Linked DNA regions of Homo sapiens: region 1 is linked to region 2. The links come from fine-mapping of genetic effects on gene expression. Tissue or cell type: subcutaneous fat. Region 2 holds a variant in brackets; the other region holds the start of a gene. All regions are shown on one strand. Distances are between the middles of the regions.

What was found. PIP is the estimated chance that this variant, and not a neighbour inherited with it, causes the effect.
Region 1: it holds the start of WDR5B-DT, and the variant in region 2 is fine-mapped to the expression of WDR5B-DT in subcutaneous fat (FUSION, PIP 0.95).

Annotation. Positions count from the first base shown.
Region 1 is chr3:122,414,843-122,417,532 of GRCh38, reverse strand. It overlaps WDR5B-DT (WDR5B divergent transcript), which reads right to left and starts at 1,327. Exons shown (of 3, transcript NR_125405.1): 1 at 1,283-1,327. WDR5B (WD repeat domain 5B) reads left to right here and starts at 1,471. Exons shown (of 1, transcript NM_019069.4): 1 at 1,471-2,690. The coding sequence starts at 2,005. RefSeq lists enhancers at 1-673, 777-976, 1,137-1,186, 1,217-1,456, 674-1,491 and 1 more.
Region 2 is chr3:122,506,065-122,508,754 of GRCh38, reverse strand. The region is part of intron 1 of KPNA1 (karyopherin subunit alpha 1); the gene reads left to right. Among named protein-coding and RNA genes, the nearest start is that of KPNA1, 7.5 kb to the left of the region's middle. RefSeq lists enhancers at 1-16, 177-226. The variant G/TG (reference allele first, on the strand shown) is at 1,315.

The DNA.
Region 1 (2,690 bases), 91 kb after region 2:
ACTTTCAATTATCCCTAATAAGTATACAATAGGATACCCATTGTTTCCAAGTGCTTTTAAATTCTTGACGCTGATGAGACATTTGCATCGTGACCAGCCACCAGTAAAATCTTTTAAGCCACGTTTTTTCTGCTTTTCTTGGGCACTCTTTTTTTTTTTTTTTTTGAGACGGAGTCTCACTGTTGCCCAGGCTGGAGTGCACTGGTGGAATCTCAGCTTACTGCACCCTCCACCTCCTGGTTCATGCCATTCTCCCACCTCAGCCTCCTGAGTAGCTGGGACTACAGGCGTGCGCCATCACGCGCAGCTAATTTTTGTATTTTTAGCAGTATTGGTTGCGCCATGTTGGTCAGGCTGGTCTCGGACACCCGACCTAAAGTGTCCCGCCCGACTGGGCCTCCCAAAGTGCTGGGATTACAGGCGTGAGTGCTCGGCCTCGGGCACTCTTTACTGAGCAACAACAGGTTGGAGAAACTAGTAGGGCTTCCAGTTTTTTGGTAAACCTATTGTTTAAAAGTCTGCCTGGTCATCAGATTCCAGTCGTCTTGTTTCTGCCTCAGATGATAAAACTCTAAAATTATAGGATGTGAGATCTGGAAAATGTTTGAAAACACTAAAGGGGCACAGTAATTATGTCTTTCGTTGCAACTTCAATAGCATGTATATTTTACACACTTTCATGACCATTAATCATCTCCTAAAACTGGGGAAAGCTCTCTAAAACCTCCTTAAGAGTAACCTTATCCGTTACCCTATTCCACCAACCTCTTTGTCCTTTTCTGTTTCAAGCAACTTTGAGATACCGACTTCTCTATGGAAGCTTAAGCCGTAGATGCTAAAACAAACGTTTGCTCGTTACTCCCAGCAGAGCACCGGCTTTTAAAGGACCTCAACAGACACGTTTCTTAACCTTTACGAAACTTTTCCAGGGGAAACTTAAACCAGGAATTTTACAATCTGGCATAAATTCTGTCACCCGCCCCGTGACTCCATCGCCACACATGCCACCTGGCTCCACACCACAACAAACAGGAGGGAGCGGAACCCATGCAAAGCAGGAGCTTCCCCCGTTTCCGGCGTCTGGGTGGATCTACGTTAGCTGCCGTTTAGGCAGCTTACGCGTCAGGTGTGGGCCTAAGCCTGCAGCTAAGGTAGGCATCCGCAAATCTAGTCCTTCTCTGTGACAATTTCCAAAAAGAAATGGTTTTTGAAACAACGATCCACTGCTTCCCACACTATCCAGTTAGGTCCGGGACAGACCCTACCCAGCTAATGCACTCACCCAAGAAGGCAGTCGCTTTCGCATTTGAAGGGCGGGGCGAAAAAGACCGGAAATGAACATTGGCGACTTTTTTGCGCAGGCGCAGATGGCCGTCTCCCATTGGTCATCTCGGCTCGGTAGTGGTAGGAGGGACTTCCTTTGCACATGCGCCAGGCTGCTTTTCCGGCTTTGTTGGAGATTGACGCGGCAGTGCACACCTGCTGGTACGAGCAAAAGTAGCCGACAGGCCAGAGTTTCCAGTTTCGGTGGCTTCGTAGGCTTTTAGCTTCTGAAATCCGCTAAAAGCGGCGGTTCATTCATCTTCAAGTACCTAGCCTGACTGGTAGGGCTGCTCAGCATTCCGAAACATTTCGACCTGGGGAGGGGGGCGGCGGTGAAAGAATACTTTCTGTAGAGAGTGCCCCTCGCGTCGCCCCTGCTTTGAAGGCTTTATGTATTAACGGAATGCCGAACATTTGTGTCCTACTTGCTGACAGCGCACAGGATCCTTCTAACAGTATTTCTCAAGTACTTAACAAAAAGATGAAAACTTGAAGTCCAAGCCGTGCTGCTGATTCCGTCTCACAGTTTAAAGACTGTCCAGAAACTTTAAGCTTTCAAAACTGTACATTTTAAAATCCTGTGCGTTTATCTTCATTTTGCTGGGCAGAAAGCCAAAGTACTGGACTGCCTGGTTCAGGGCTGAACGCCTAGTACACCTGCTAACTTGGAGCTTCAGAGCCATGGCAACCAAGGAGTCAAGAGACGCCAAAGCACAGTTGGCCCTCTCCTCATCGGCCAATCAGAGCAAGGAAGTGCCTGAAAACCCAAACTATGCTCTCAAATGTACTCTTGTGGGACACACGGAAGCAGTGTCATCAGTTAAGTTTAGTCCTAATGGAGAATGGCTAGCAAGTTCTTCTGCTGATAGGCTAATCATAATTTGGGGAGCATATGATGGAAAATATGAGAAAACACTCTATGGTCATAATTTGGAAATATCGGATGTTGCCTGGTCATCAGATTCCAGTCGTCTTGTTTCTGCCTCAGATGATAAAACTCTAAAATTATGGGATGTGAGATCTGGAAAATGTTTGAAAACACTGAAGGGGCACAGTAATTATGTCTTTTGTTGTAACTTCAATCCGCCATCCAACCTTATAATCTCGGGATCTTTTGATGAGACTGTAAAAATATGGGAGGTGAAAACAGGAAAGTGTCTCAAGACTTTGTCTGCTCATTCTGACCCAGTTTCTGCTGTTCATTTTAATTGTAGTGGGTCCTTGATAGTGTCAGGTAGCTATGATGGCCTCTGTAGAATCTGGGATGCTGCATCAGGTCAGTGTTTAAAAACGCTCGTTGATGACGATAACCCTCCTGTCTCTTTTGTAAAATTTTCTCCAAATGGTAAATACATTCTCACTGCAAC
Region 2 (2,690 bases):
TGTTGAAGGGTGAAGAGAGTAGCTGGTGGCCATTTTTTTTGTGGTGGGTGGAGGGCATATACTCATAGGTTTGTTTCTCTTGGGCTAGTCAGTTTCCCTGAGAGTCTCCAGTCTCTTGCCAGGAGAATGTGTGTCTGGCTGCCATGTTTTGAGAACTCATTTTAGAAAAGGAGCTTGGGTTTTTACTGTTGTGCTCATGTAATTCTGTTATCAATAAGGCACCTCACCCCCACCCTCACCTGCATTGGAGCACCCATTTGAAGGGATTACTGAAGGATGGTTGTCTGGTTGTGAAGAGTGGAGGAGGAAATCTGGGCATGTGATGGCTGTTTTGTAGACTTTCAACAAACCTTCTGATTTTGAGCCCAACTCCTCACTACCTTAAGGAGGGATAGTACCTGGATGATCTGTCTGAAGCATCCTGTTTGTGGGTAGGTAGTGTGAATCAGCTTGTTTCTTATTGCCTTCTTCGTTTGCAGGTTAGGCTTCAGAGTTTTCCACTTTGCTAGTGACATATAATTTGTCTATTTTATGGCTTCTTTTAGGTTTTGACACCATCTCTGATTCTTTTGCTTACCTATTCTCTTTATGCCGTGGTTCTGGTTCATTTATTTGAAAAAAAAATTTCTTTATAATTTTAGTATTCTACCATGTCTACCATTTTATTTCTTTACATAAACTCTTTGTTTTCTCCTCTGTTCATTTTTTCACAGCATTTGAATGACCACTGTGTGCCTATTGAAGATTAAAATTGAATTTCTGGCTTTGAGTTAATATGATATGGGAAGAAAAGTGCAGTCTATATGTGCTAATTCCTGATTTGAAATTTGAAAACCCTCATAAGTGTTCTTAAAACAGATATATTACAGTGGTTATTAAATTCATTAATGGATATGAATTGAATGAAGGCAAGTTTTTGCGATTAAAAATTTTTTTACTACTGAGGGAACGAACCCTTTATGTCATCTTCTGGAAAGATTTGTCTTTTTTTTTTTTTAACCCCCCAAAAAATCATTCAACTTTTAGATAAGAGATAATTTTTCTCCTTCATAAAGACCATAAAGATCAGAACTTCTGAAGAAATAACAGCATACTCAGTTGAAAAAATAGTAGTGAAAAGTATAGAAATTCAGTGTTTTAGGTAGGTTGATAAGCTTTATCATAGTAAACATATGCTTTCAGCTCTACTTTTTGAAAGTTTTTTTCTTGTATAATCAGTATATTGCTTATCACAGAAAATTTGGAAGATAAAATAATATTTCCATATTCAAATTTTATATGCTGATATCTTCTCTTTTCTTTTTTTTTTTTTTT[G/TG]AGATGGAGTCTTGCTCTGTCGCCCAGGCTGGAGTGCAATGGCACAATCTCAGCTCACTGCAACCTCTGCCATCTGGGTTCAAGTGATTCTCCTGCCTCAACCTCCCGAGTAGCTGGGATTGCAAGCGCCCGCCACCACGCCCGGCTAATTTTTGTATTTTTAATAGAAATGGGGTTTCCCCATGTTGGCCAGGCTGGTCTCGAACTCCTGACCTCTGGTGATCCGCCCGCCTTGGCCTCCCAAAGTGCTGGGATTACAGGTGTGAACTACTGCGCCCAGCTATATTCTGATTTCTTAAGTTACGAAATATTTTTCGAAAGTATAGAGAATAGTGTAGGTTGGGTTTTTGTTCCCAGCATTCAGATTTTTCATGTTAGTGTTCTGTTTTCTCAATACATTGTGAACATTTCCTTTAACCAAGCCCTCATATTGGAACTTTTAGGTTTTTTACAATTTTTCACTAGAATAATCACACTGCAGTGAACAGTCTTACACATACTACTAGTTTTGTTTCCTTTATGTACATTCTAAAAGTGGAAGTATTCAATTCAGGGTTTGAGTTCTCCAGATCCTTGACAGATATTTTCCTTTAAGTGTTTTGATATTGAGAATGTCTTTGGAGAACTTCCCAGCTTGGGAACCTATAGATACTGGGAGTTGGGGGTCAGAATTTGGGGCAAAGGTTATGATAAACCTCTCAAAGGAAAACATTTGAAACTGGGCTGTGAAAGAAAATATGTATTGCCATTGGATTATTGGTTAGAGCTATAAGATGAGGCCAGAGATGAACACCTATGAATCATATGTCTGCCACATTGACTTCTCACAGGAAAAGCTTTATTGAAGGGTTTTTCAAACTTTGCTTTCATTGAACACTGAAATGCTCTTAATAAAAATAAAGCTACTCCTTAATTATCGTATAGGAAAAGAATGGGTAGGATATTTCAAATTTTAATTTTCTTTTCTAATTTCTATTAAAATATTTTAAACGGACCTACTATCGTTTGACTAGAAGCTGTTAACATCAATAATTTATATTTTCAAATGAACTGAACACTTTATACTTATACTCCACTTATTTAAATTCATAACTTTTTTGTAGTCATACTTTCTTGTAGTTTTGGTTTTTAATAGTAAATGCATATCATATACTTTCTAATAAAATTATGCCTGATTTATATGGTGGAATTAAGTATATTAGGATTTCAAGTTGTTCCACAAGAGTATTATGGATTTTAAATATTCAGAACATTTAGAATGTGTTTGAGATTTACTGATTAGGTGGGCTGACCCAGTGCACTGAATATATAACATCTTGAATATAATAAAAATATAAAAAGATCTACACTCATTGTTTTGGGTTTAGAGTGGTGGA